3 separate regions of the Homo sapiens genome follow, and all the other regions are reported to be linked to region 2. The links are microRNA targets in miRTarBase. Many come from high-throughput screens and were not tested one by one. Region 2 holds a microRNA gene; each other region holds the end of a gene's coding sequence. Distances are between the middles of the regions.
The links. The annotated mature microRNA hsa-miR-1277-5p reads AAAUAUAUAUAUAUAUGUACGUAU and lies in region 2 at 1,563-1,586, shown strand. An mRNA with a match to its seed (bases 2 to 7 or 8) in the 3' UTR can be bound and repressed. Matches are read on the target gene's strand: a 7mer-m8 pairs with bases 2 to 8, a 7mer-A1 pairs with bases 2 to 7 and ends in A, and an 8mer does both.

Region 1 (3,058 bases), 63 Mb from region 2:
TTGTGGCTTGTTTTCATCTCAAGCGGTTTGAGCATGTAGGCAAACAGAGGCGAAAGATTAATACCTTTATCTCCTTTCCCTTGGAGCTGGACATGACTCCGTTTTTGGCCTCTACTAAAGAGAGCAGAATGAAAGAAGGCCAGCCACCAACAGATTGTGTGCCCAATGAGAATAAGTATTCCTTGTTTGCAGTGATTAATCACCATGGAACTTTGGAAAGTGGCCACTATACCAGCTTCATCCGGCAACAAAAGGACCAGTGGTTCAGCTGTGATGATGCCATCATCACCAAGGCTACCATTGAGGACTTACTCTACAGTGAAGGGTATTTACTGTTCTATCACAAACAGGGTCTAGAGAAAGACTAGTCTTACCAGACCACTTACTGAAAAAAAAGTAAATGATTAGGCAAGGATTTTGAAGTGACACACAGACCTACTTGGAATGGACAATGACAGTAACACCTATGTGACAGCTAGTATCTTGATATAAAGAACCTATTTTAGCATGGCCCATGGGTCTGTCGGAAGAAAAAAATGAATACTAACCAGTGACCATTCAACCTTAAGAAATGGGGAGAGGGAGAAGAGGTTGAAAATGGTCACATAAAGCATAATGAAATGAAAAGAATGCTTTAGGTGGGGACAACGGGAGTAGAAGTGTTCTGATGCTACTCTATGTCATTTGTTTTTACAGAAATATCTTGTGAAGTCAGGGAGTATTCCTTTATCAGCAAAAACTTCACAATTGGTGTTCCAGCTGTGGCTGACCAGCTAAATAGTTTGAAAGAAAAATAATATTTTAAAATAAAGTTTAAAGAGCTTTAAAAGAAAAACATTTAAAAAGGAAAAAATCATTTTTAAGATTTTAAAAGAAAAAAACTTTTAAATGTTGAAAAAAATTTAAGTTGTTATTTTTAAAAGAAATATTTTAAAAGTTAAAAATAATTTTTTAATTTAAAGAAGTTTCAGAATTTTAAAAATTAAAAGCAAAGAAAATTAAATTCTTAAAGTTTAAAAATGTAAAATAAATTAAGGAACAAGGTTAAAAATGAAAGTTTACCAAAAAAAGGAAGAAAATACTGTTAAAAATTAAAGTTAGAAACAAAGGAACATCTTAAAAGTTTCAAATGAAGGAAAATAATATAAATAGATATTTCAAAATTAAAGCATAAAATATACGTATTTAAAAAGTGTTAACAAAATTACTACTATAATGATTAAGAAATAAATTTTCAAAAATACAGAATGGAATGCAATTCAGATTTTAGAGAAAAGTTTTAAAAGAGGCAAGTTTAGAATAATTCAAGACAAAAAGACAAAATGTGTTTAAAGACAAAAATTGAAAAAATACAGGAAGAAAATAGAGACTTGTAAAATAAAAAGAACCTTAGATAAGTTCAAGAGATTTAAATGAAAACTTTAAATATTTAAATAAAGATTTAAAAATTTAAGCTTTTAAAAAGAAAAACAGTTACATAAAAATTGACCAGTGAAAAAATGTGAAAGATTCAAGTAGAAAAAATTATTAAAATTAAAAGTTTAAGAAGTTCTATTTTTTTATTTAAGCATATTAAAATACAGACGGGTATGAAAGAAATAAATGGAGGAGACAGGAATAACGACAGCGGTGTGTGAGTATATATATATATATATATTTTTTTTTTTGAGCTTTATGTTGATATATCAATATACGTTGGAAAAGGAAATAGACATTTTAATCATTATCTTACCATCCAATTGTGAAATGGCTGCAAGGCCTAAACACTAACTAACCCACCTTCCCCTCTTGAGATTCCATGCCCCATCTCATATCCTGAAGGAAGTCAAATTACTTCCTAGGCAGAATCAATTCATCTGAGAAAAATGAAAACATTAGGGACTTTCCCATTTAGAACTGCATTATTCATACAAATTCTTAGCTTCTGAAAAGGGGCTCTTGATAATTTGGTGGCTTAGAGAAGTTAGATCACAGCTGTGAAGCTCTGGCTTTGGTATTTGAGCCCCATGGCCTGATTGAGGAAGTGGCAGGGACCCATATCTGAGGCCTTCCCACCTTCCTTTTTCCCTCTTCCCCCTCCAAGGAGAAACAAGACCTTTAATTTCCACAGTAGAGCAATGGGTTTGTGCTTGCAGTCCTTCTGCTCATTCTTTATTCCCTCTTTATTTCCTTTTTTTGTCACTCATGCCTAGTTCCCTGAACCCCTTACTTACCTGGCCTTACCTACATCTCTGAGCCCCAGCCTGCAGGGCTCCTTCTTTGACTATTCACCTGGTGGCTTTTACTCCTCCTTCAAGACCCAACTCACAGATGACTTCTCTGGAGTCTTCCCTGAATGCTCTAGGCAGGTATAAATGAGAAAATTGTTCCTCTCTTCCCCTCTTTATTCCTCTCACTGTGCCTCCAAAGTACTTTGTCCATACCTCGGTGATAGTACTTATTCTACTGTGATTTTATTGTAGCTTTGTGATTGTCTGCCCCTCTGCACTGAGCATCTAAGAACAGGGGGCCAAGCCTTATTCATTTCTGTGTTAATAAATATTTGTTAAATGTGAAGATGAGTTCAGTTATTTGCTCTATTCACCTTGTCAGTAATGTTTTCTCACCCCTTCATCCATCAGGCTGCCATTAAATGCCCAGTGCTATACTACAGTGTGATCAGTATTGTATTTTACCCCAAAGCAGGATATGAAAAGCACTCAGCTGCAGGGGCTGGCTTAAGAAAGGTGCTCAGTGAGAAATAGCCAGGTGTGTGGAGGGAGGCCCAGGTACAATGCAGAGAAAAGAGCACAGGCCTGGAAGTTGGCAGTCATGGAAGACTGGGTGGGGATGAGGAGCAGCAGCTGAAGGTGAGGCTGAGCTCTCTGGCATGTGTGTGGCCACACTGCCCCTCATCACAGTGTTCCTCAGCAGCAGTGTCTCACAACTGTGTACCACACCTCTCTAGGGTTTACCACATTAGTTTACCTTCCCCGTGAGACAGTAGTACCTCATCACTGCACAGTGTTCTTCATCACACTGCACATCATCACTCTACTACAAGGGAGTGATGTCTGGT
Region 2 (3,061 bases):
CATCTCTGGTTTCTTTGAGCAGTGGTTTGTAGTTCTCCTTTCACCTCCCTAGTTAGCTGTATTCATAGGTATTTTCTTTTCGTGGCAATTGCAAATGATGGGAGTTTATTCCTGATTTGGCTCTCTGCTTGGCTGTTATTAGTGTATAATAATGCTAGTGATTTTTGCACATTTATTTTGTATCCTGAGACTTTGTTGAAGTTGTTTATCAGCTTAAGAATCTTTTGGGCTGAGACTATGGGTTATCTAGATATAAGATCATGTTGTCTGCAAACAGGGATAGTTTGACATCCTCTCCTCAATCCCATTACTGGGTATATACCCAAAGGAATATAAATCATTCTATTATAAAGACACATGCACACACATGTTCATTGCAGCACTATTCACAATAGCAAAGACATGAAATCAACCTAAATGCCCATCAATGATAGACTGGATAAAGAAAATGTAGTACATATACACCATGGAATACTATGCAGCCATAAAAAAGAACGAGATCATGTCCTTTGCAGGGCCATGGATGGAGCTGGAGGCCATTATCCTTAGCAAATCAATGCAGGAACAGAAAACCAAATACTGCATGTTCTCACTTATAGGTGGGAGCTAAATGATGTGGACACATGAACCCATAGAGGGGAACAACACATGTTGAGGCCTATCAGAGGGTGAAGGGTGGGAGGAGGGAGAGGATCAGGAAAAATGACTAATGTGTACTAGGCTTAATACCTGGGTGATGAAATAATCTGTGCAACAAAACCCCATGACACAAGTTTACCTGTGTAACAAATCTGCACATGTACCCCTGAACTTAAAGTTAAAAAAAAAAAGAAAAATAGGATAATGTGATAGAAAGTTAAGGAGTCAGCTAAGGCTATTTTGAGATGGTCAGGGAAGTATTTTCTGATAAAATAGCACTTGAGCTATGACCCTAATGGCAAGGAATCATCCTATTGGCCAGAATGTAATTGTGGGGGAGTGATATGAGAGGGAGATGAGGAGTGTAGAAGATATCAAAAATGTAGGCAGAGGCTATGTCATGTTTAGGCCTTCATGGGCCTTGGTACTGTTTGGATTTTATCTAATACTTAAGAGTCCATGAAACATTTTTTTTTTTCTAGAAGAATCTGTGTAAGATTGGTAGTATTCTCCAAATTCTGGGGGAGGAATTCAGTGCTCGAAGATATTGCAAGTCCTACAGAAATTTCACTGGCACGTTAAATCTTTAACATTTTAATAATCTCTGGAGTAATTTCATTATTGAGCCTATTGTGATCATATCCTGATACTTGTATAAGTGCCACCTAAATAATTAATGTGCCTTGAGTCCTTTATCTGTCTAAAATGGTTATAATGACCTTCCTCTAACAAACTCTGTGATGTGCACAAAGAATTATGGTTTTTTTTCCTCAGTATCAAGAGTAGCATTCAAATTGCTGTGCTTCTATAAATAGACAACTTAAGATTGAGAAGAGTATTGTATTGAGATTTGCAAATATATGATTGTCTTATTTTACCCTAATTTTTTCCAGCAGAAATGCAGTATCCATTTCTAACCTCCCAAATATATATATATATGTACGTATGTGTATATAAATGTATACGTAGATATATATGTATTTTTGGTGGGTTTAATTTTTTTCATCTTTTTTCATAGTTTTTTTAGGGGCTTCATTTAACTTCTGGTTAAGTCTTGATTTCTTTTATCTAAAGCATGTAGAATTTTAAGAAAACTATTCCCTGAATGTGGTTTTCTGTGTTATAAACTTTTGTATTTGTGCATATTTATGGAGCAATGCTTTGGGGAAAATAACAATTTTTATTCAGCCCCTTGCTTAAATCCTTAATCCTTTTTAGCTATAAAAGTACGTAGAAGTTCTTATCGTCCATTACAGTTTTTTAATGTTAAAAAGTTGAGCAAGTTTTCACATTTAAAGGTAAATATCCTATTGCAGAATAATAGAATATTGCTGATGGGTAACTTTCTTATGCAAATTACATTGTCCCATTTGGCATAAAATTTCTGAGCATCTATCAGTATTCAGAAATCTAAGCCCTTTAGGCTGGGCACAGTGGCTCACACCTATAATCCCAGCACTTTGGGAGGCTGAGGTGGGTAGATCACTTGAGGTCAGGAGTTCAAGACCAGCCTGGCCAACAAGGTGAAACTCTGTCTGTACTAAAATTACAAAAATTAGCCAGGTGTGGTGGCACGCGCCTATAATCCCAGCTACTCGGGAGGCTGAGGCAGGAGAATCACTTGAACCCGGGAAGCAGAGGTTGCAGTGAGCCAGGATTGTGCCACTGCACTCCAGCCTGGGTGACAGAGTAAAACTCTGTCTCAAAAAAAAAAAAAAAAAAAAAAGAAGAAGAAGAAATCAAAGCCCTTTAAGGGCCTTTGATTTATTAATGCTACATTTTCTCATTTGTACCCCTTTAAAGCATATTTTTAAAGAAAAGATGTCATCATTTGGTCTCTATTTCTTTTCTTTTTCAAACAGGAAACAGAGAACACTGCATACAAAGTTGGAAATGAGTCCCCTGTACAAGAATTGAAACAAGATGTGTCTAAAAAGGTTGGAAAGATACAATGTCAATATTAGTTTATAGCAGACATCATATTTATATGGTATATTTCAAACAGCTTTTATATTCTTTTAGTATAGCGCTCTGTACATGGCTGATGTTCAGCAAATGTTTCATGAATCTGTCACATTTGTGGTTGAAGACATTTCAGTCTTTTTAGAAGTCCTTTTCATATTCTAATTGGTAATTTATCCTTGAGACAATATTTTGTAAAATGCTTTTATTTTTTGTTCTTGTATTTTTATCAGAATAAGCCCTAACTCTTCTTGAGGTTACTACCAGGAGTTATGGGTATTGAAAAGCTCAGTGCAGCAACATTCTGATGTCTTTAGGAATCAGAAGTTATAAGAAGTCCTTACTCTGATAGTACCTGATACCTTTTAAAAAATTGATGCTATGAAGCTTCAAAGGTTGGTTTACTAGAAGAGACTGAGCACAAGATCAGTATTTTGAAAATGGGCAGTTTACAGTATCA
Region 3 (3,058 bases), not on the chromosome of region 2:
TTGAGTCATCTCCACCATGCCTTCCATGCTGCCTGTCTTCTCGGAGGGGGTTTTTGGTTGTAATTCCTTTCATTTTGCTCTGCTCAAATGTCCTTCCTATTTGGTCAGGAGCCCTTGGCCCCCTCTCCACCCTTGGGCTGGGGCCCAAGCCCTCTTGCCAGTCCCTTCTCTCTTCAGGAAATAAACATGGACAAACTCAGAGGTAGGGTAAGGGCAGGGAGTCGTTCAGCGGAGATGCTTACATTCCGGTGAGGTTGGGTAGACGAGGTGCCAGGCCCCATCGTGCCGGGGTGGGAGGGGCGGCTACTTCACCACTGCCCGGACAAGGCACCCAGAGGCCCCTGCAATGGCCGAGTCTCTGCTGCCTCCGTCGCCCAGCCCAACAGTTTCATTTCCCGGGTGGGAGAAGGGAGACAAGGAAAAAAGAGAACGCTGAGGCCTGGAGCTCCATCTGCCTCTCCTCAGAGTGTCCGGCAGAAAGTGGAAGCTGCCCAGGCCAAAGCCCTGCGGTCTCAGGGCTCTCCTCTCTCTCTGCTCCTGCCCAACAAGGGGCAGGGGCCACACTACGGCTGTCAGGCCCCACCCTGATTTCAATGGCTCGTGTCCTTCACTGCAACACTTTGGTTTGAGGAGAGACACAGAAAGAACAAGATTGAGAGAGAAGAGAGGAGAGCAAAGGGAGAGAGAGGAGACAGGAAGGAGGAGAGGAGAGAGGAAGGAGGGGAGGAGAGAGGAAGGAGGGGAGGAGAGAGGTCAGACAAAAGAGAACCGAAAAAGAAATCAAAGGAGGAATCAAACCACCCAAAAGTTGTTAAGTTTTCCTTCATCTGTTCTTTTTGCTTTCTTACTCCTTTTTTTCCTGTCTTTTTTTAAAGCTTTTTCAGTTGATTTGGGAGGGGAGTTTGGGGCTCTTCACCCCTGTCCCTGATACCCTCTCTCAGCCCCGCCCACCCGCTTCCATCTGCCCTGGCCGAGGGACAGGCCCTGCCCCAGCCGCCCCCTCCGGCTTTCCCAAAGACAACGTCCATGAGGTATTTGTGAAGAGAAAGAAGCATCCGTCCTTCCATCCGCCTTGGGGAACAAGGGCCTGGACCACCGGTGCAGGGGCTTGGCTCCGCCTCGCGGTTCCATCTTATTCTTGAAGAGTCCTCATCTTCTTTCCCTTTTATATATATATATATATATATGTTTATATATATATATAAATTTTTTTTCTAGTTTAAATTTATTGTTTGTTTGTTTCTGTTTTTTTGGTTTTCGGTTCAAAACTTTGTTGGCCTCCACAATAGCAGGAGGGCAGGGTGGCTCCCAGTGGTGTCTCTCCTCTGTCCGTCGTCAGTGGAGACGTGTCCGGGGCTGGTCAAACACAGGGTCCAGCCAAGAGTTGTGGAGGTCTTGTGGGAGTGGTGGCCACCACCGCGCCCTCTCAGATGGGGACCACAGGCTGTGGCACTGTCCCCACCACATGGACCCTGATGGGGATGCCATCTCGAGGAACCCCACCACTGGGGTGTGTGCGTGCGTGCATGTGGGGGGAGGGAGAGGCATTCGCCAGTACCAGAGGGGCACAGGGTGGGAAAAGCGAGGTGAGTTCTCTTTTTGGTTTCTGGTTAATGTCAAAGAACGTGAAGGATCCCACGGATAGGCACTGGAATATGAATTTTTTTTTTTTTCAGGGAAACAGACAGGATGGAAAAAGACAACTGAATGCCCTCAACTGAATGTCTTCATCCCCTCTTGCCTGAAATTTCCACCTTCCCATAGGCTGGGGAGGGAGTCAGTTCCAGAGCAGAGGAGGGTGACAGGGTTGAGGAGGGACTTGTGAGAGCTAGAACTTGGCAAAATGGCCTAGCCCACCCTTCAAAGGGGAAAAGAGGGAGGAACAGGGGATGAAAAGTTGTCCGCAGGCCTTCCCTTGAACTCTCCCCTGCTGGGGGGAGGGAGGAGGTTAAAGCAAGACCCCCTGCCCAGGTGGGGAGAGCTGGGGGCCAGGGGAGAAGGGGACACATGGTAGGGACACATTCTGTTGAGCACAATGCTAAAAATTCTGTACATCCTTTGGATGAAGCTACTGAATATTTGGTGTAAGGTTGTTCAGGCCCTTTCTCTTTCACCTTCTGGAAAAGAACATTTGGTGGGTGGTGCTAAGCCCCAGCCCATCTGCCCAGGCTGTGCCCTGTCTTCGCTGGCCCAGGGCTGGGGGCTGGGATTAGGAAGCTGGCATCTTCTCTTTTTCCTTCTGTAGCCCCCACGGGGGAGGCAGGGTTGGGGGTTGGTCCCACAGCCAGGGCTCGGTGGCATGAGGTCTGACCTGCTGGAGGCTTCTCCGCCCCTGGCTGGGGTTTTTATTTGGCGTCGTAGCAGTGAGGGTGAGCACGCTGAGGTCTGGCTCGCGACTGGTTTTTTGGTTTGTTTGATTTTGTGGGTTTTTTTTTTTTTTGGTTTGTTTTTGGTTTTTTTTTGTTTGTTTTTCACCTCTGGTTCCTTTGGGGCAGCTGGTTTCTGTTGTGATTATTTTTGGTTTTCTCTTTTGTTGGTTAGTTTCTTTCCTTTTTTTTTTTTTTTTTGGTTGGTTGTTTTTTTGGTCTTTCCTCCCTTGTCACTCCTGCTCTGAGGACCCTCTGCGTCCCCACCACTGGCCTCCTCGCCCTCTTCCCAGGCAAGGGACCAAGGCAGGGACCAGAGGAATGGGAGGGGAGGCATGGCTGGCCCTCACTCAGGTTTGGACCCTGCCTCGGGCCCCCCTGGACCTCCAGGGGTCTGTGCTGCCGTCTCGCTGCAAGTGGAGGAGGAGGAGGATGAGGATGAAGAGGATGAGGAGGAGAGGCCAGGAGACTTGCTGGAGATGGAGGCTGCCACAGCCGCAGCCGCTGCTGAGACCAGGCCCACACCAGGCGGGGTGCTGAGCAGGGGCAGCCCAGCATGATTCAAGAAGAGCGGCGAGGTCACCAGGCCAGGGCTCCCCGGGGCTGCACCGGCTGCCCCCAGCACCAGATTCCCGCTGCCATCAAGGCTGGTAAGGGGCAGGGTTCCACCAGAGGCCAGGGCTGGCGGGGAG

Region 1: the mRNA of USP51 is a reported target of hsa-miR-1277-5p. Seed matches in the 3' UTR shown: 7mer-m8 at 1,652-1,658.
Region 3: the mRNA of POU2F2 is a reported target of hsa-miR-1277-5p. The part of its 3' UTR that is shown has no 7-base or 8-base seed match.

The regions. Positions count from the first base shown.
Region 1 is chrX:55,484,114-55,487,171 of GRCh38, reverse strand. It overlaps USP51 (ubiquitin specific peptidase 51), which reads left to right. Exons shown (of 3, transcript NM_201286.4): 3 at 1-2,556. The coding sequence ends at 368. Among named protein-coding and RNA genes, the nearest start is that of USP51, 4.2 kb to the left of the region's middle.
Region 2 is chrX:118,384,839-118,387,899 of GRCh38, forward strand. It overlaps MIR1277 (microRNA 1277), which reads left to right and starts at 1,556; the gene lies at 1,556-1,633. WDR44 (WD repeat domain 44) reads left to right here. Exons shown (of 20, transcript NM_019045.5): 3 at 2,502-2,576.
Region 3 is chr19:42,088,545-42,091,602 of GRCh38, forward strand. It overlaps POU2F2 (POU class 2 homeobox 2), which reads right to left. Exons shown (of 15, transcript NM_001394376.1): 15 at 1-3,047. The coding sequence ends at 2,713. Among named protein-coding and RNA genes, the nearest start is that of ZNF574, 14 kb to the left of the region's middle.